2 linked regions of the Homo sapiens genome follow. The protein of the gene in region 1 interacts with the protein of each later gene in a pairwise test. Each region holds a gene or a part of one and is shown in the gene's direction. Other genes may lie near its edges. The genes, in order: MGME1 and DCDC2.

Region 1 (11,244 bases):
ATGAAAGATATAGGAAGGGTGAGGGAAGAAGTCCAACATTTTATCACCCACCAGCTACCAAGTATCTAACAGCACAATGTCCTAGCTCTGCGGTGCTCTTGAAAGAAAAAGTGAAAACCCTGACAAGGGAGCCATCTGGATTTGTATTCCTCACCATTTACCATGACTAGAATGCTTAGGAGTGTGCCCTTCAGAAACTGAGCTTTTCAGGCAGAAAATTAGTTTTCTCTCCAGACCATATAGGAATGCCTAAAAAAGTTATGCCAAAATGTAAAAAGAAGAGTCAAGCCAAGGACCCCCATTTTTAAACTTAAGTGTTGGCTGCCCCTCAAACTGCAACTTACTCCTCCTGGGGTACTATGGTTTGCCTTTAGGCAGCATGTGAAGGTGTGAAGATCTCTTTTAGGAGATCTTGTCAGAGTACCTCAATGGCCAATCAGAAAACAGGTATTAAGGGTGAAGAAGCCACTTTTTGGAAAGTTAGATCATGCAGAGAAACTTAATTTACACTTTAATAGCCGTTTCTCACTATTGGGATCATTAAAAGTTAGACTGTTTCCTTAAATACTATTTAACTTCACTACACACTGTTGTGACCACGGGCTATTTAAGACATTCAGGGTACTAACCTATAGATCTGTTCTCACCTAATTTGCTCGAGCATCAAGACCCTGATAATAAAGACAGAAAAATGCTGAAACAGCAGAATTTTAAACCAAGTTCCCCTCTGCAGCACAAGAAACTCAGGTAAGTTTCCAGTGTCCAAAGCCTACACTCACAAACACAAACACGAAGCCCTCCCTTTGCAACCCTCAAGTACCCAGAACCTGCTGAAGAAAACCATCTTTCACCACCTTTTGTTAAGGTTCCTCAGTATTAGTGGAAAAGCTTTATTCTCACAAAGATATCCAACAATGCTAATTTTTACATGGCATGTTATTTCCTTAGGCAAGATTAATAGAAAACCTGAAAAATTCGCAACAAGCACACAAAGACTAGCTTCTGTAACACAACCTGACCCCACCCATATCACACCATTTTAGAAGGAAGTCCGTTTAAACCAGTGATTCTCAAACAGGCAATTTTGACTTCTTATCACCATGGGAGGGGAGGAGGCCGCGTCCTAGCAGAGGCCAAAAACAGTTGCTTCACATCCTACAACCCAGAGGGCACTCCTCAACAAAAGTGATCAGGCTAAAATGTCAACAGTGCTCCCCAGGTTGAGAAACTGAATTTTAAACTCAACCTCTAGTTTAGATGACCACTAGGTCTCACCGAATGAGGAGTTTACAGCTCAGAAACAAATCTAGAAAACTTAACAGCCTTGGCCAAGCACAATGGCTCATGCCTGTAATCCCGGCATGTTGAACTGGATGGTGAAACCCCATCTCTACCAAAAAATACAAAAATTAGGTGGGCATGCTGGTGTGTGCCTGTAGCCCCAGCTACTCAGGAGGCTGAGGTGGGGGTGATCACCTGAGCTCCCCAGGTCGAGGCTGCAGTGAGTTGTGATCGTGACACTGCACTCCCGCCTGGGTGACAGAGCCAGACCCTGTCTCAAAAAAAAAAAAAAAAAAGCCTCTTGGCCATTTCTACCTATGGCCAAAATAATGTGAACAGATAATGACCTTTTAGAGTATTCACAAATGGGGATCTTAAGACACCGAGTACAAGTTACTGAACTAGAACTAAGGCGTGGGAAGCTTGATACGTCATACTTCCTCAACTTAGAAAATAGTTGCAAGGGTAGCATAAAGCTTCAGTCCACAAAGTTTGTAAGTTTGGACTTGCTATGGTATTGGTCAAAGTTCAGGATTGTTCCTATACTAACCAACTGCACTCCATTCTAGCTAATGGAGAACAAAAATACCCCTAGAGGCAGCTTCCACACCAGTTAAACACGAAACCAGAGCAGCAGTACTTAGTCTACAAACACTCCTGAGTAGGTAAGAGGACAGATATCATTCACCAAAGTCCCTGTAACCAAGCAGTAAGTTAAGGCCAAGTTGTTACTGTCAAGGAAGGAGAACCCCCTAGTTAAAAATAGCACTAGGCTGCGAAGGTCGAGTTCAAATACCAGCCTGGCCAACATGGTGAAACCCGGTCTCCACAAAAATACAAAAATTAGCCGGGCATGGCGGTGAGCGACTGTAATCCCAGCTACTTGAGAGGCTGAGGCAGGAGAATCGCTTGAACCCAGAAAGCGGAAGTTGCAGTGAGCTGAGATCGAGCCATTGCGCTCCAGCCTGGACGACAGAGCGAGACTCCGTCTCAAAAAAAAAAAAAAAATCAAAAACCAGTAAATAGAGGACCAGTTAGGAACCAAATTAACCATGCATCTCTTCCCCTGAACTATTTTCTGAGGAAGAAGGCAAACCCCAACACCCTCGGCTAAAGAATGTAACAAAATGCCAGTGTCTGGCTACCAGACACGACTGACACAGTATTCCCTTTCAGTTTTGCTGAATTGGCCAAAATGAGTATTGGGCTAGAATTCAAAATCCTGAAGAATCAAGTATGTCCCCCTACCTTAGTGAGTCTTAATTAACTCCATCCTTAGGGAGAATTCCAAACCAAAGTAAATTATCAGGAGGGCATTTAAACAATTTAAGTAACACACATTTCAGGTAACACACAAAACATTTCAGTTGACTACCGAAATTGTATTATGGCAAAAAGTTGCCCAAGACTTAGTTTCCCATTATTTCATACTTGCCCCAAACTCCCTTTCAGTTAACCATAACACCATCTAGGCCAGACCACAGCAGGTTATCAGCATCAGCAGAGATCAGAAAACAAAAATAAAGCCACGCGTCAGGGTAATTATTTATTTTTATTGTCTCTTTATTCCTGTAATGTAAAAAGGAAAACAATGTCATGTAACTCTCTTCGCTACAGATACGGACAGTTTCTGTAGCCTCTAAAACAGGCAGGAAATGGCCTTCATAACCATTCTCCAATTTTGCTGGAGGATCAGGGTGGTGGAAGTCATTTTAAAAACCAGCTGCAATATACTGTACTACCAGAGAGTGGGGTGAAGCAATTGAGTCCTTTTACCTAGCTGACTCCGAATCAAGACAGCTAAAAGAATGTACCAGAAAGAAAGAAAAAATAAAATGCTACCAAAATCCCAATCCATTATCTACCCTTTATGGAGAAAAGTACCTTTATAATGTTTTACAAAGAATCGTGGTCTCAAGTTTCCACTTTGTTTTAGTAATAAAGAACTTTCAAAAAAAAAACCACTCTAAACAACACCCTCCTGTATAGAAAGCTCTATTTTAATAATTAATGCAATGATACCCTTGTTGGAACAATCCAGCCGCTTTGAAACTCTGGTATTTACTTACTAGATGAACAAGTTTCTCTATGGAGGTGCCTTTAACTTCTCAAGAAATGTGTAAGTTAAGACGGCTCCAAATTACATTTTAAGAGAGCCTTGTATTTTTAGAGGTTCTTTTTCATCGGTCAGAAAAACTTACGTTGACGATTCTGCAAGAAAGGTTGCTCGCAAACCATGCATCGCAAAGCTACCGAGGCAAATTTAAAGAACCAATGAAAAAGAGTGGAGGCTCGTCTGAATCTTTAATTGGCTATGGGAATTTCAATTTATTGCATAAATAATCTTTTAGACCTCAAGATACACGTGACCTAGGGACAGTTTACATCAATGGGCAAGACTTAAAAATAGACACCAAGTTCAGCAAGTATTTGAGCACCTACTAAAAATTACACAACTCCCACAACAACGCATTTTGCGTTTCTAAAGTTGTAAGCAGCATGTTCGGACGCTTGATGCAATTTCCCAAGTTGTTTGGGCCCCCCCCCCAAAAAAGTCTTCTCAGTAAAAGGTGGGGGGAAGGAGGGTATTTTGGGGGCAACAAACCAAACTGGTCTGTCGCATGTTAAGTCAATTTCACGTTCACCTACTGGTCACCACGAAGCCGAGGAAAGTTTTAAAAAGAACATTCCGGGGTCTCCAGAGATCATCTCTCCAAGTCCGCTCGGCACCGGCGCCTGAGCTGGGGCTAAGGTCCCGCGTCTCTGGTTCTGTCCTAATAGAATCCGGGACATCCACAGGGATTCCCCGGGGCAGCCTTCAGTGAAGACCAGGGAGAGGGGCCGCCCGGGTCTCACGGGTGCTTCCCGCGCTGGGGATGGCGGCGAGCAGCCACGGCCTATGGACGCGCAAGGGAAAGAATGCAGCGACCCCGGAGCTCGCAGGGCCGCCCGCCCAGGAGTCTGAGGCTGGGAGGACCTCACCTTGCTGCGGTCCTCCTCCTGCTGCTGCAGCAACTCGGGAACCGCGGCCATGGCGACGCGGGACTCGAGCAGGGGCCGCCTGGCTGTGCGAGGAAAGAAGAAGCTGGGCCGCCGCCGCCGCCGCCTGGGCGCCTCTCGGGGGCGGCCACGGCCCCGCCTCCGCCGGCCTCCCTGCCCGACGGCGGCAGGAGGCCTCCGGACTCCGCCACCATCCCAGCTGCCCCGGGAGCAGGCGAGCAGGGCGCCACGTGCTCCCCCAGAGCAGCCTCCCAGTCCCCGCTGCCGTCCATCTTGGAGCCGGGCAAAGACGCCACGTGGGGCCTACCCTTGCTCCGCTCCACGAGGAGGCCGCCAACCGCAGGGCCGCGACACGGACGGGAAGCAACGGACACTCTCCCAGCAAGACGCGTCTAGAGAAAGACCGCGTTTCGGTGCGGGGGGAATTTATTACTCAGCCCGAGTCCAAGATGGCAGCGAGCGCTGACGTCACCAGATCTCGTGAGAGCAGAAGGGCGCGATTTGGAGGCTCCCGCGCTTCGGAGACGCCGGCCCTTCCGCTCGGAGAGGTACTCCCTGCCTCTAACTGGTGGCGCGTTGGCGGAGGCCGACGAAAGCCTCGGGTGGGGCGTGAGCGCCGCGGGGCATTCTGGACCTGCTTTGCCTTAGGCTGTGCCTAATTCGAAACCAAAGCGCGGGACGGATGAAAGTACGGGTCGCGAGAGGTTGTTCGCGCCTTGAGAGTTAAGCGAAGTGTGGTGGCTTCCAAGGTACCGACACTTGCCGTAGGCTGGGCTTTTATTTAAGTCGTCTTTTCTCTAATCCAGACTCCTGCCACAGGGGCCACCGCCGTCCTGGCCCCGCCAGGGGTCCGCACCCACGGCGGAGCGGGAGGCGACTTTTTGCGGTCACAGTAATGGGACCTCAGCGCCGCCACCAGCTCTGACCGGCGAGCGACGGGACCCTCCAACCCGATTTCCACGTCTGTGCAACGGGTTCATTCTAGACCCACGGTAGAGGGTGTGAGGACCAAATGAGAAGTATCCACACAGAATACTTAGCAGAGAGCCTGGTGTCTAGGAATTAGTCGTCGTCTGTCACCTAGGACTGTGTGGCCGCCATGGGACGGGCTCCATCTTTGTGTTTTTCCGTGTCTCGCACACGCCTCCCTTCCTGGGCGTCACATTCCTGCAGATTAGAAACTGGGACGTCTTGCCTCAAGCTGTCTACTAATTCGCATTTAGTATGTGTCGGTCCTTCGGGTATTGAGTCTTGATTTATTTATAAATTTTTTTTGGAGGCAGGGTCTCGCTCTGTCGACTTTCTTAAGAAAGGGCTCTGTCCAAACATGTCGAAAAAGTTCACAATTTTGATGTGCAATATCATTCTGATGCAGCTTTCGCTTTGATGGTTGTTTTCTCTCCAATAGGAATACAAACATAAAGGCCTTCGACCGTTGCAAATAGACTAAAGTGAAAACAAATCTGAATGAAGATGAAGTTATTTCAGACCATTTGCAGGCAGCTCAGGAGTTCAAAGTTTTCTGTGGAATCAGCTGCCCTTGTGGCTTTCTCTACTTCCTCTTACTCATGTGGCCGGAAGAAAAAAGTGAACCCATATGAAGAAGTGGACCAAGAAAAATACTCTAATTTAGTTCAGTCTGTCTTGTCATCCAGAGGCGTCGCCCAGACCCCGGGATCGGTGGAGGAAGATGCTTTGCTCTGTGGACCCGTGAGCAAGCATAAGCTGCCAAACCAAGGTGAGGACAGACGAGTGCCACAAAACTGGTTTCCTATCTTCAATCCAGAGAGAAGTGATAAACCAAATGCAAGTGATCCTTCAGTTCCTTTGAAAATCCCCTTGCAAAGGAATGTGATACCAAGTGTGACCCGAGTCCTTCAGCAGACCATGACAAAACAACAGGTTTTCTTGTTGGAGAGGTGGAAACAGCGGATGATTCTGGAACTGGGAGAAGATGGCTTTAAAGAATACACTTCAAGTAATTATCTCAATTCTGATTCTATATGTTTGCTATGTTTTCTATAATAGAGAGCAACGGTGTCAAAAGAATGAGGTTTGGTTTTGTTTTTTTAACTTACTAGCAAGGAACTCCCTTCAGATAGTAATTAACATTAAATAGCACTTTATGTGTATTAACTCACTTGATCCTCATGGTAGTCCTGTGGAGTATAGATACTGTTATCCACATTTTACAGATGAAACTAAAATAGATCAAATATTTGACTAAATAATACATAAAATTCACTTGTTTTATAAGCTACCAACAATATTAGAATTGCTTGTTTTCCTTGATTATTGAAAAAAGTCACCTGGTAACAGAATTCTAGTTGTTTGCTAGATAATTCTGTTTAGAATCCAGTAAATACCCACTGTCCTACTTATTAGCGTAAACTGACTCGTAAATTTAAAGACCTTGAAGCAGACCAGAACACATGACCTATATTTAGACCTTGGTAAACATAATCAGAGGTTCTTCATAAGGATCTGAGGATAAATACACTTTAACCTTCAACTTCTAATTTACTAACTTGGACAAGTGAGGAGAATAGCTTCCTTAAATTTAATATTCCATTCAAAAACAAAGACCATTGGCACTGGTGAATTAGCTAGTCCCATAAATTATATAGGGGTCTTTTGTTAAAGGAAAGTTTCACATCAATCATTCCTTTACCCAAGCTTCCCAAAGTGCAGTACATGTACTCTTAGTAGTACACAAACTCTTTCATTTTTGTTTTAAGAATAGTGTACTGACCCTTGCCATAGCCTGGGCTTCTATTTAAGTCGTCTTTTCCCTAATCCAGACTCCTAAAACTATGCGTGTAACACATTAAACATGTCACATGTTCTAAAGAAAAATACTAAGTATATATAGGTGGTATTGGATATGTACCAAATGGTCAAGGCCTTTGCTCCTTATAATATTCCTCAGCTGTGTGGGGCAAGGATTATATATGCAAGAGCTAACTGCCTTCCTAAGATAGTTAATTAGTAGCAACCACCAAACTATTGTCTGCTTTCCAAGCAAGCAACATAAAAATCTTCTAATGGCATCTTACAGTTTTGTATTTGTACCACTAAAATTTAGAATTGATAGTTTTCTCATGAGAAGTTATTTTCCTTAAACCAGGAATGTACAGCTGAAATTACTAATAAGAAATGTATTATTAAAAGGCAGAAACCTGCTGGAACACATGGGACCCCAGGGCCTGTAGCTCTTGGCACAAAGTAAGGAAGTGCACCAGAGAGGAATTTCTGTTTGGAATGTGAATGAGCCCCAATAGCCCAGGCAGAGAGAAGACTGGTTGTTTTTTTTTTCATAGAGTCAGCTTTGTTGATCTAGATTAGCACTCAGCTGTGTTTCTCAGTTAACTCAGTAGCAACCTTAAGAAATGAGCAGAATCGCTTACCCCAGCACCCCGCCCAGACTTGACCGCCGGGACCCAAGTGATTCTCCCATCTCAGCCTGCTGAGTAGCTGGGACCACAGGCGTGCACCACCATGCCTGGCTAATTTTTTTATTTTTTGTAGCGACAAGGGTCTCCCTATGTTGCCCAGGCTAGTCTCCAACTCCTGTCTTCAAGTGGTGCTCCCACCTCGGCCTCCCAGAATACTGAGACTACAGGTGTGACCCACTGTGCCCAGGCAGAATCACTCTTTTTAGAAAATAAGTATTAGTAAGCAGTGGGTTCTGAAATAAATAAAGGGACAATTAGTGTCATGGTGAATAAAAGAAAAAGGGCTCACTAAATTGATTAACGGGTCTGGAGGATACTGGATCCCAAACCCAAGAAGGTGGCACCCAAGAAGAATTACATTTTAAAAATTAAGAAGATTTTTTTAATGAAAAATATTGGATCAGTAATTTCTACCCAGTCTTCTCAAAGGTGAGAGCATAGAAATGTGTCTGGCATTCTTCCAAATACTTGAGCAGTTTCCCAAGCATCAGTTCATCTTTTGAAGACTGGTGGGAATGAGAAAGTCTGACTTATTCTGATTTATATTTTGTGTATAAATACACACAAAGGGATGGGGTTTAGGTTTTAATTTTTTTTTTTTTTTTTTTGCTACGCTGATTTAATCCTGAAGTATTAGCCATCCTGCCAGTTCCATCATGAGAATACTGGAGATGCATGAAGGTTTTTTTTAGTGCACTTCATATACGAGGACTTGAAAACATTTCACTTTCATTACTTTGAGTGAATAAGCAGACTTGATGCTACATGCAGTGAATATTCTTGGATCATTTTTTATTTTTATAAATTGAATCATGTTGAATGTTCTGAGCCTTAGTGTCTAAAGGATCCTGTAATCTAGGTTTTCATGTTTGTGATCATGTGTATATGAAGAACCTAGCCAGGGGTAAGTTTGCAGCGAGAAATGTATGGTCTATTGGCATGGCATTTGCTAAGTTTTTTTCTTCCTGTTTTTAACATGTTTGTCTTCTGCTTCATTAACCTAGTGTGTAGATGAATGCTATACACTTCTTTTTCCTAGGCTTTAATTCCATCAGTCATAAATTTCTTGTAGGTCTTTCACGTGTTAATAATTCCAATTGAGTCAAGTAAATTTGGAGTAGAATAACTTAGTTCCTAAGTTGAATTTCATTTAACTCTCCAAATAATTTTTCAGAAGGGATTCCATTTTTTGCTAATGATAGAATTGACATTTCCAGCTGGGCATAGTGGCTCATGCCTGTAATCCTAGCACTTTGGGAGGCCGAAGCAGGCGGATCACTTGAGGTCAGGAGTTCAAAACCAGCCTGGCCAAAATGGCGAAACCCCATCTCTACTAAAAATACAAAAAAATTAGCCGGGCGCAGCGATCACTTGTAATCCCAGCTACTACGGAGGCTGAGGCAGGAGAATCGCTTGAACCTGGGAGGTGGAGATTGCAGTGAGCCGAGATCATACCACTGCACTCCAGCCTGGAAAAAAAAAGAATTGACATTTCCATCTTTGTAAAAAATAGTTGAAGGCCGAGTGCAGTGGCTCATGCCTGTAATCCCAGCACTCTGGGAGACCAAGGTGGGACGATTGCTTGAGGCCAGGTGTTTAAGACCAGCCTAGGCAACGTAGAGAGATTGCATCTCTACAAAAAAAAAATTTTTTTGAATTAGCCAGGCGTGGTGGCACATGCCTGTAGAGGAAGCTGAGACAGGAGGATTGCTTAAGGCCAGGTGTTCAAGGTTACAGTGAGCAATGATCGAGCCAGTACACTCCATCCTGGGTGACAAGTAAGACCCTGTCTCAAAAAAAAAAAAACTTGACAAATGTAAAGTTGTTTTCCGCCTTTTCTGTGGGTCTCTCTGCAAGCATGTTCCAAGCACGTGTATTTCCTGCTCTGTTTCTCTGAGTATCTAATTGGTGATTTCCAAGATTGCTTCCTTTGCTCTACTGTGTGGTAGATTGGAAACAGATTCTGGTGCCAGGCTGCCTGTCCAGCTTTTTGCTTTGGGGCAAATTAACAGCACTGCCTGGTGGGATAGGGCCTCATTCATTAAAATGGGGGTAACTTACAATCCCTATTTTGCTGGGTTGTTGGGTTTGAAAATTAAATAATGTTTTGAAAGCTCCAAGGCCATTGCTTAGCATAACAGTCCCCCCTCTTTCTCTCCTCTTACTAAGAAACAAGTGAATATATTTCTTGTGTTTGTTGAGTCTCTTTGTGTGTTTTTTTTTTTTTTTTTTTTTTTGAGATTGTCTTGCTCTGTCACCCAGGCTGGAGTGCAGTGGCATGATCTTGGCTCACTGCAACCTCTGCCTCCTGGGTTCAAGCAATTCTCCTGCCTCAGCCTCCAGAGTAGCTGGAATTACAGGCATGCGCCACCACACCTGGCTAATTTTTGTATTTTGAGTAGAGACTGGGTTTTACCATGTTGGCCAGGCTGGTCTTGAACTCCTGACCTCAGGTAATCCGCCTGCCTTGGCTGCCCAAAGTGCTGGGATTATAGGCATAAGCCACCATGCCCGGCCATGTTCCCTTTTTTAAAATGTGTATGAGGAGGGGGCTTACTATGCAAGCGCTTGGAGGCCAACGAGCACTGAAAATGAGGAGAGAGTTCAAAAATCAAGTTAGATCCTGGGATACGCCAACAAATCCAGACACTACAGTTCTTTCGGAGAAACCTGGGGACGAAAAGTAAGGCTTTGACCTCAGAAAATGAACATACAGGAAAAATAATGTGTCCTAATGTGTCCTAATGAAATTTCTCTAGTATTCACATGTTATAAAATGTTAGGAAGAAAGAAGATGTGTCCTCCTACAAGCCATAAATCAGAATTCTAATAATCTAAAGCTAATTAGAAAAATATTACATGTTAAATATTAAATATTAGAATAGAAAAATGTATGAGGGAAAAAAATTGAGACACAGCTGAATTTTTCAGGCTGTTCCAGCACTAAAAAAAAAATACAGGAGAAGAATGTCACATATTTTCCTCTTCCTCCCCCTCCAGATTCCATAATATCAAATTCATAACTTTTCATTTGCGCATGCCTTATTTTCCATTCCTTGTTTGTCACTAATCCTGTTAGTAAAAGGATTCCCCCACCTATGTTCATAATTAAGTTTTGGTCTAAAAAGAACTACAAACAGAAGCACAGTTCCCTAGATTTCTAATTTTTTTTTATTTTATCACAGCCAGTTAACTTATTACATTGGATACTTAAACACATAGTACCATAAACTGGATGTGGTCTTGTAGCCGCCAGATCTTCAGTTTTGACTTTGGCCCAATTCTCCTAGAAGTACTTAATTTTAATTCATTTTATTACCTAACGTCCTATTAATAATCCCGTTGGTTTCAAAGTATATTCTTAGGTTTCACAAGAGGCTGAAATTTGGTCTTAGGGGTTGTCACTTAAAAATAACTAATGTAATTTTTGGCCGGGCACGGTGGCTCATGCCTGTAGTCTCAGCACTTTGGGAGGCCAAGGCTGGCAGATCACGAGGTCAGGAGTTCG
Region 2 (10,338 bases), on another chromosome or scaffold:
TGGAGACAGGGTCTCACTCTGTTGCCCAGGCTAAAGTGCAGTGGCATGATCTCTGTTCATTGCAGCCTCAACCTCCTGGGCTCAAGCGATCCTCCCACCTCAGCCAAGCAGCTGGAACTACAGGAGTGTGCCACCATACCCAGCTAATTTTTTTGTATTTTTTGTAGAGACGGGGTTTCACTATGTTGCCCAGGCTGGCCTCAAACTCCTGAGCTCAGACAATCTGCCCGGCTCAGCCTCCCAAGTGCTGGGATTATAGGCATAAGACACCATGCCCAGGCAACTTTTTGATGTGGGCATTTAGTGCTATAAATTTTCCTCTTAACACAGCCTTAGCTATGTCTCAGAGATTCTGGTATGTTGTATTTTTGTTCTCAGTTTCAAAGAACTTCTTGATTTCTGCCTTAATTTTATTATTTACCCCAAAGTCACTCAGGAGCAAGTTTTTTAATTTCCATGTAATTGCATGGTTTTGAGCAATTTTTAAAGTCTTGGTTTCTATTTTTATTGTGCTGCGATCTGAGGGTGTGTTTGGTATGATTTTGATTCTTTTACATTTTCTGAGGATTGTTTTATGTTTGGTTTTGTGGTTAATTTTAGGGTATGTGCCATGTGGCAATAAGAAAAATGTATATTCTGTTTTGGGATAGAGAGTTCCATAGAGGTTTATCACATCCATTTTGTCCAAGGTTGAGTTCAGGTCCTGAATATCTTTGCTAATTTTCTGCTTTTATGATCTATCTAATACTGTCAGTGGAGTGTTGAAGTTTCCCACTATTATGTGGGAGTCTAAGTCTCTTTGTGGATTTCTAAGAACTTGCTTTATGAATCTGGGTGCTCCTGTGTTGGGTGCGTATATATTTAGGATAGGTGAAATTCTTAATGTAATGGCAGATATGAGAGATTTGGTTGCTGCTCTCTTGGGATATGACCGTTTTCCTTTAACGTTAATAAATCTTATGGTTGGCCCCTCCCTATGCATCAGTATATTCATATATAAAAAGCATCCCATAAAAATTTACTGAACTTGCTTTTTATGTTTCTTGTGTTTGTAGCAAAAGAAGAAAGTAGAGCAACAACAGTTATATAAAAGAAGGCTAAAATCATGAATTAGAATTTATTCAGTGCTGGGCCAGGTGTGGTGGCTCACGTCTGTAATCCCAGCACCTTGGGAGGATCACTTGAGCCCAGGAGTTCGAGACCAACCTGGGCAACATAGCAAAACCTTGTCTCTATTAACAAAAAGAATTTATTCACTGCGTTTTACTTACCTGCAGAGGAAACAAGTCAAATCTTGGCTGTTTCCAGAGTCCACAGCTATGCTGGTTTTTAATTTCTAGCTATGAAATTACTACTGATTGAGATATAACTATTTTGAAGAAAAGTAGAAAAATAGTGCTTGGATATAGGCCATTGGCTCTCAAGCAGGTATGATTTTGCCCCTTGGGGACATTTGGCAGTGCCTGAAACCATTTTTGGTAGTCCCAACTGGGGATGGGGTGGCTACTGCTACTGTTTAGTGGGTGGAGGCCAAAGGTGCTGCTAATAAACATCTTACAATGTACAGGGCAGCCTACTCACCTTTCCAGCAAAGAATTATCTGGTCCAAAATGTCAATAATGCCAGTATTCAGAAACCCTGGTCAAGTGTTTTTTGAGATAGCGTCTTACTATGTTGCCCAGGCTGGTCTTGAACTCCTGGGCTCAAGCGATCCTCTTGCCTTAGCCTTCCAAGTAGCTGGAACTATAGGCATAGGCCACCATGTCCAGCTTAAGTTAAGGCAAAAAACATAGAATTCTGGGTTAAGTGTTGATATTTAGACTTGTTAGGAGTAGAGGTACAATGTTATAAAGAAAGAGACTTTACCATCTGTATACTAACTAAAAACACAAATACATTTCAGGAATGTTGGTGGCTATTGGTGGCTATTTTCATTGTATTTCATGGTTCTGTATGATATGGCCATTTATGTCATCAGGAAACAAGCTGACAGGTCAATGGGTTTTTTTTTTTGCGTCTGTAAATGACATTTAATCTTATTATGTAATATAGGAAGACAGAAAGCTTTTTGATGATACTGAAATCCTTCCATTTATTAATAGCTCTTGCTTATAACCTTAAAAAATATGCACTGTCTTTCTGGTTTAGTTTTCTAATACTTATTTTCCTGTTCTTTAAAAAAATTTTTGTGGACATTTAAAATCATCTGGTAAAATTATGACTGTTCTTTTAATAAGTAACATATTAATTGTAGCTCGTAGCAGCAGTTTTACAGTAAAGGAAGGTTACTGTGAAACTGCTCGATTCTGGGAAGATATAATGTTCACTCTTGTTTTGCTTAGTAGGGACGGCAAAAAAAAAGAAAGAAGCACAAATGCTATGCAGTTCTGCATCATTAACACTGGCAATGGGTTCTTTTACCTCCTGCCCTCTCACCCCATTGTTCCTGACCCGGTTCTCTGTGTGTTTGTATGTAATATTTTGGTTGAGGGCTGTTCTTACACAGAATGTGGTCAGAAGCTTGCCAGCCTGATGAATATGCTAAGAAAATAAAATTTAAAAGTATTAACAAGGCCGGGCGCGGTGGCTCATGCCTGTAATCCCAGCACTTTGGGAGGCCGAGGCGGGCGGATCACGAGGTCAGGAGATCGAGACCATCCCGGCTAAAACGGTGAAACCCGGTCTCTACTAAAAATACAAAAAATTAGCCGGGCGTAGTGGCGGGCGCCTGTAGTCCCAGCTACTTGGGAGGCTGAGGCAGGAGAATGGCATGAACCCGGGAGGCGGAGCTTGCAGTGAGCCGAGATCCTGCCACTGCACTCCAGCCTGGGCGACAGAGCGAGACTCCGTCTCAAAAAAAAAAAAAAAAAAAAAAAAAAGTATTAACAAAATATAAATAGAAGAATCAATGTTCAATGGAAACAGAGCTTTATTTAAAGCACTGTGATCTGTACAAGTTAATTTTTCTCCTCTAAAATTTTAATATGGCAGCAATAGGGATCCTTATGCCAGATCATCAGACTCACTGGGGTGAAACCCTGTACAGCAAGATAGTCATTGTATCTGCATTATAACATTAGTATTTAGTGGAATCTGATAACTTTGAGGCATCTATAATGCAATAATGAGGATAGTAACAAATGAGCTAAATTAAGTACAGAATGTTTTTATTTACTATGTAATTTTAATTTTTTTGACATCCAGAATACTTTGTAATCTTAAGCAATTCTTTAAATGTTGGTTAAAATTCTAATTGTTGGTGTTCATATTTTCGACAGGCTTTATACTTTAGAAGGAAAACTTGTTGAGAGTGGAGCAGAGTTGGAGAATGGGCAGTTTTATGTGGCTGTTGGCAGAGATAAGTTTAAGAAACTGCCTTACAGTGAGTTACTTTTTGACAAGTCAACGATGAGAAGGCCTTTTGGGTAAGTCTTACTCCTTACCACTCCTCATGCTTTAGTTACCACTTGAAATAGCATTGGGTCTTTTGCTGACCACCATTATATTTTATGTAATTGATAATCTTATTTATTACTTAGAATGGAAAGCATATATGGTATACATTGATCTTTGTTTTTATTGCCATGATGGGAGACTGAAAGCTATTGAACAAAAATATAATTTCTGGGAAGTTATGAAAGACTACATGGTTTTTTTTTAGCATGCATGAAATTTATAAGTAAATGCAAAAATTTATTATTGTGAAGAAGATACAGGGCAATGAGCTTCTCTACAGCAAACATTATTAGAAGTTTTTGTGTCTTAATAGTTGCTAGACCAAATAACTTTTCAGTTGGTTTGGATAGAAACATCCAAGAGTGTTAAAAAACTCATAATATTTTATACTTGTTTTAATAATAACTGTAAAATATAAAAACAACATAATCCCACTTATGCAAATAGAGAGGATGGGTGTACAGTTAATTCATGTAAAATTTTAAGGATTATATTTTTAATTACAATATACCGTAAACAGTTTTTCTCCATGAAATGTCATATATTTGTGAAAGATGCTTTATTTCAGCCTAGGAGATACACTGCGGAGTCACTCAAGAAGAGCTCTGGGCCGGGCGCGGTGGCTCACGCCTGTAATCCCAGCACTCTGGGAGGCCGAGGCGGGCGGATCACGAGGTCAGGAGATCGAGACCATCCCGGCTAAAACGGTGAAACCCCGTCTCTACTAAAAATACAAAAAATTAGCCGGGCGTAGTGGCGGGCGCCTGTAGTCCCAGCTACTTGGGAGGCTGAGGCAGGAGAATGGCGTGAACCCGGGAGGCGGAGCTTGCAGTGAGCTGAGATCCCGCCACTGCACTCCAGCCTGGGCGACAGAGCGAGACTCCGTCTCAAAAAAAAAAAAAAAAAAAAAAAAAAAAAAAAAAAAAAAAGAAGAGCTCTGGCCCATGCTGCAGGATCTCTCGGCTTGCTCATGGTGCCCAGGGATCCATCTCTGTTGCTTTTCCCAGAGATTCTGTGGCCACCTTGCCATTGCAAAAAAAAATTTTTTTTGGTTGTCGTCCGCAGAAGTAGAGCAGAATATCACCAGTGTGTTTGCAATTAATTCACAATTTGTGTAACTTGATGGAGAGGCTGGCCAAGAGCTTCTAAATAAGTAATAGATGAAGTGGAATTTCAGGGGTGGTGTTTGAACTATGCAAGAGCACATGGTTTTCTAGCACCTTTGAATTATTTACCAGCTGACTTATCGCTAACCAACCTTACCCATCCATGAAATCAAATCTTTAGCCATCTTTGCTAAGCAGCCCTAGGTTAACCTGCTGTGATCAACAGTGTGTACCTGATGGTAATAAGAAAACTGTAACTCACGTTGGCCTTTCTCATACAATTAATAAGAATTTTTTTTATATATGTGTCCTTCTATTTTTGGAGAGATTCAGTTGGGTTTCAAGATGGGTCTTTTCCTAATAATACAGATATCAACAAAACAACTTATTCTTACAGCCTAAAATAATTTTTAACTTTTTGGTGAGGACGACTTGTTTAAAAACTACCTGAATGCAAATGCCAGTGTTTTACCTCTGCTCTCCTATCAGAGGTAGACATAGAAGACATCATAGAAACGAAGGAAATTTGTTTTTAACTCAGTCTGGAAAAATCATTATTCACATTTGGAAATGATTTTTTGAAATGCAAATAGGACACTTTGGGATCTGGATAAAAATGCTATACAAATTTCAGGTGATACTAAAAGTTTACTTGTAAGCATTGATTAAAATATTATACAGGAAAACATTACAAATCTTTTGGGATGGAATTTGGAAATGTTATGATCTTTGTGAAATTGGGAAAGTATGTGTTAAAGTGTATGTTATCTACCTTTTGTGAAACACAGCAGTAAACAGTTGACTTCCAGGTGGGGATGATAATTATCTTGCATTGTACATTATTTGTAAACAACATTCAGATTTCTAAATTGCAATTTGTTTCCACAGTCAGAAAGCTTCTTCACTACCTCCTATTGTAGGATCCAGAAAGTCTAAAGGGAGTGTAAGTATCAGATGCTTTCCTCGTTGATGTTCTATATTTTTATATGATACAAAGAGACTGTCCTTTGGGCTTCAATTAAGTTCCAAGAGATAAAACTTAGCCGCTTCGTGGTGTATAACCAATTATGTGAAACAGCACTAGAACTTTAATGTTACACTTATGGTCCTAAACAGAGCTAACATTTTTTAGAATATGTATTTTAAAATTTTTTCCTTGTATATACACCTGACATAATTTATATTGCACTTAAAATCTTGGCAATAATACTTTAAACTGTAAGAACCATTGTAGTAGGTCACATCAATGATCATCCAGTCTTGGTTTCTATCTTTAACGAAGACTAAAAGGGAAGTTTCGCTGAGAAAAGGGGTATAATCCTCATTAATATTCCTTGAAAAGATTGAGAATTGTTCTAGGTATTTAGTTTGCCATCTGAATCTTTTCCATTTATCATTTATTCATGGTTTGTTAATTCAGCAAACATTTATTAAATACCTACTCTGTGGGAGTAACGACAGCATTTAGTAGGTAATTTCCTAACCTTCTTGTGTTTTCAGTCTGCGCTCCCTGATGGGGTGAGCTCCATGTCATGCCAGAGCGTTGCCTTGGCAGTTCTTCCTGGCTGAGGCTTCTCTTTCTTCCCTTTTGGTTGAATTGCCCGACAAGTTGTGATCAGAACTGATTTGACATCTTCCACCCACACCCTGAATTAATTAAGCAACATTCTTATTTTGGTATTTTGTAAAGTAAATGATTTCTAGGCAATGATATTGTCTCCTAATGATTTAGATCCCTCCTTTTTTTTGGTTATATCATGTGAAATTCTTGAAAGAAAGACAAATAATTTTGTGTACATAAGTAGTGCCGAACTCAGCATAACAGATATTAAGAACTCATTAGCTGAGACTCTTATACTATTATGACAAAAATAAAATAAAAATCAATAGAGCTCTTGCCCTCAAGCAACTTACAATCTACTTGAAATAAAGAAGATAGCTTAAAAAGGCAACAAACAAGCTAATGCTAAACATCAAATATCTAGAGATTGGTGACCATGAGAGGGAGGGAAGGACTGAATGTACAATGGCAGCAGTCCACAGAGGAAGTTGAATTTGAGCTCTGCCTTTGAAACTGTTTAAAATTCAGAAAAAGGTAGATGAGGGGAGAGGACCTTCAGATCCAAGGGAGGGTGAGATGGTTGGGGCAGACGTGGGCATGCGAAGAAGCAGTCACGCTGGCTGACATTTACCGGGCCCTTGTGGGCTCAACACTATGCCAAGCTCTTTACAGTAGTGATTTATTTAACCTCACCCCACAAGGCAGGCATCTTTGTCATCTACATTTAAAAAGGAATGAAAAAAGGAAGTACACAGAGTAGAAGTGACAGGTTCAAAGGCTCCCATTGAAGGCAGAGGTTGCAGTGAGCAGAGATTGCCCCACTGCACTTCAGCCTGGGCAACAGAGTGAGACCCTGTCTCAAAAAAATGAAACAAAATAACATAAAATACAATACAATACAAACAAAGGCTCCTACTGAGCAAATGGCAGGGGAGGAGGGGAGGAATTGCATCCACACAGCCAGCTCAGAGCTCCTGCTCCCGAGCCCCGGGACAATGAGTCCCTTAGGCTGACTGGAACAGATGGTCCTTTTTGGTGTGGGGGCTGATGTGCCTGACATGGTAGGTGGTGACAGTTATTACATGACCTTGAATAGCAGAATGAAGAGTCTAGTGTTTGTCCTTGAATAGAGGGCAGCCCACAAGGGCTTCTGAGAGGTGAGAATATTAATCTGAGTCCATTTTGGGAGCATCAGATCTTTTACATGGAGGAAGACTTCACGTGGTGAGAAGCCATAGATAAGTCGATGGTTGTAAGGCAGTTGCAACTATCTTGGTATGAGGGGAAAGGAGCCTAGACTGGGGAGGTGGTAGAGGCAGCAGGAAGTGATGATTATTCTGGAAGAAACCAAGGAACAAAGGATTTGTGTGATGATTGGATACAAGGGGTTAATGGAGAAATTGGGGCCAAAGATAACTGAGGTTTTTAAGCTTGGAATTTGAGAAAATGGTAGTTCTATGGCCAAGAAGAAGGCAGCCAGGGCAAAGAATGACCTACGTAATTTCAAACATGTTGAGTTGGAAGTATCATCAGGAAACTTAGTTGAAAGTGTGCTGCAAGCAGTTGTAAATGGCAGAGCTGAGGCCTGCCAAGGACATCAGGACTGAAGCTGCAGTTGCAGGTGGTTTTTTTTTTTTTTTTGAGACAGGGTCTCACTCTGTCACCCAGGGTGGTGTACAGTGGCATGATCATGGTTTACTGTAGCCTTGACCTCCCAGGCTCAAGCGATCCTCTCACCTCAGTCTCCTGAGTAGCTGGGACTCCAGGCATGTGCCACCATGCCTGGCTAATTTTTGTGTTTTTTGTGGAGACAGAGTTTCACCTTGTTGCCCAGGCTGTTCTCAAAGTCCTGGGCTCCAGCGATCGGCCTGCCTTGGCCTCGCAAAGTGTTAGGATTACATGTGTGAGCCACCGCACCTGGCCTGAGTTGTAGATTTGAACAACCATGTAATGGTCCTAGTTGAACAGCAGACGTAGCATCACTGTGGTACTTCATCACCCAGCACAGCTTGAACAGAGCAGGTCTCACTGGTGCTGCCAAGTGAGAGAATGGATGAGGGGCTCCTAGAGGAAGATGGTGCGGTGAGAATTACAGAGGGCCCAGGCTTGAGGCAACCTAACTTCACAGGTGCGGGGTCAAAGAGGAGTGAGAAGAATATTTCAGGAGGTGAAAACAATATCAGAGCAACTATAAAGCTAAATAAAACTCATGAATTTAGGGATTGGAAATTGTATTTTGCTTTTTTTGTTTTTCTTTAGGACTTTGTAGCAGAATCCCTTCTGTGTACTGTATAGATATTAGCTTATTAATTCTCACAGTGCAGCTAGAGGAATGATTACAGAGACCGATTGTAATTGAATAAATTGATCAATAAATTGATCCCAAGTCACAGGGAAAGTCGATGTCAGGACCAAAGTCATGACCCAACTCTTTGTATTCACAGTGACTGAACTTTGGAATGATATGTTTAGTATTCTGAAATTTGAAAAACTAAAATTTTAATTAAAAATGTGTAGAGCATTTCCTGCTTTAAAATGCATGTGTAGGTACACACATGCAATTTTTATTTCTTGCTCATTTGTAAGTTTTTTAGACTGTGCTGTGAATACTGTGATACATCAATGTCATCACATCAATTCATCTGATGATTGAATTTTCCAGGTGTATGGCACAGTAGTAAGCCCCAGGGATACAGCAATGAGCGCAAAGATCTGATGCTCTCTCTGATACTCGTGGTCTACTTGAGTAGACAAAAGTGAAACAAGCGATTCCATTAATCAATGGATACTTATGAAGTATAAAAATGAAAGAAAAGTGCACAGTAATATGAAAGACAATAAAAGAAAAACACATTTAGATAGGTGTGTCAGGGGAGGCCTCATGGAGGAAGTGACGTTAAGCAAAGACTCAGTTATAAGGTATATTTGCATCCCATAGAAAGCAAAGTTGTCAAACGTAGTTCCATGCTATGACTTAGAAAAATAAAATGATAGCAGAGTTTGTCCCTCTTTCCACAGTGTTCCCGTAGCACCCTGTATTCATCCACTCCATCCGTCATCCATTCCAAACATACTCACTGAGCTCCTACTAAGTGCCAGGAACTGTAGGCACTGAGCGTATAGTGGTAGATAGATGAGGACTTAGATTTATGGTGCTTTCATTCTAGTGTGTGTGTGTGCATGTATGTGTGTGTGGGGGGGAGGGTATGGATGGGATGAATGGGAGTAGACAGACGATCAACTAGTAAACAAATGTACAAATAGTTTCAAATGGTGATAAATGCTATGGGGAAAATAAAATGTAGCAGGGCATTGATTTATATAAAATTGTCTGAAACTGAGACCTTAATGATATCTAACACAGCCAATTGTGCCAGGGATGAGGCCGGGGAAGAAGAGCATCCAAGGCAGAGGAAACAAAGTCACACAGGCCCTTGCTAAAGAGCCTGGCATGTGAGGAGGGCAGAAAGAAGGCCGTGAATGAAATCGGAGAGGCAGGCAGGGCTCAATCATATAGGCATGCAAAGAGTTTGGATTTTATTTCTTGATGGGGTGCCATTTGAGGGTTATAGGGAGGGAGTGATATAATTTGCTTCAAAAAAAATTTTTTTTTTTTTTTTTTTGAGACAGAGTCTCACTCTGTTGCCCAGGCTGGAGTGCAGTGGCATGATCTCGGCTCACTGCAACCTCTGCCCCACGGGTTCAAGCAATTCCCTGCCTCAGCCTCCCGAGTAGCTGGGATTACAGGCGCCCGCCACCATGCCTGGCTAATTTTTGTATTTTTTTTTTTAGTAGAGACGGGGTTTCACCATCTTGGCAAGGCTGGTCTTGAACTCCTGACCTCATGATCCACCTGCCTCGGCCTCTCAAAGTGTTGGGATGAGAGGCGTGAGCCACCACGCCTGGCCTGCTTTACATTTTTAAGTGCTCATTCTGGCTGTGGTATCTCTAGAGAAATGGTTTGGGGCAAGAATAGAAGCAGGAGGCAGTGGGACACGTACAGGTATGTGATATAGGTGAGTCCGCTAGGTGGCCGCAGTGGGGGCGGACATCTATTATAACTCTTCTTTGAGTATATTGTCATTGACTGATTCGCTGATCCAACAACTATTTATTGAGTTCATATGATGTCCTGGGACTGTTCTGGTGCTTCAGGGCCCAGAGATTCTGAAGTACTAAATGCACGGAGGTTACATTCCAGAAACAAATGCACAA

Evidence for each region.
Region 2: the proteins of MGME1 (region 1) and DCDC2 interact in binary tests that used the Homo sapiens proteins (3 or more experiments, as listed by UniProt).

Annotation. Positions count from the first base shown.
Region 1 is NC_000020.11:17,964,112-17,975,355, forward strand, and holds the start of MGME1 (mitochondrial genome maintenance exonuclease 1 isoform 2 precursor), read left to right. Parts: upstream 1-4,906; 5' UTR 4,907-5,030; exon of another isoform or gene 5,031-5,503; intron 5,504-5,689; 5' UTR 5,690-5,748; coding exon 5,749-6,259; intron 6,260-8,595; coding exon of another isoform or gene 8,596-8,640; intron 8,641-11,244. Other genes in the region: SNX5 (sorting nexin-5), read right to left, coding at 4,264-4,314. UniProt on the Homo sapiens protein: Metal-dependent single-stranded DNA (ssDNA) exonuclease involved in mitochondrial genome maintenance. Has preference for 5'-3' exonuclease activity but is also capable of endonuclease activity on linear substrates.
Region 2 is NC_000006.12:24,284,019-24,294,356, reverse strand, and holds part of DCDC2 (doublecortin domain-containing protein 2), read left to right. Parts: intron 1-3,278; coding exon 3,279-3,425; intron 3,426-5,450; coding exon 5,451-5,505; intron 5,506-10,338. UniProt on the Homo sapiens protein: Protein that plays a role in the inhibition of canonical Wnt signaling pathway. May be involved in neuronal migration during development of the cerebral neocortex. Involved in the control of ciliogenesis and ciliary length.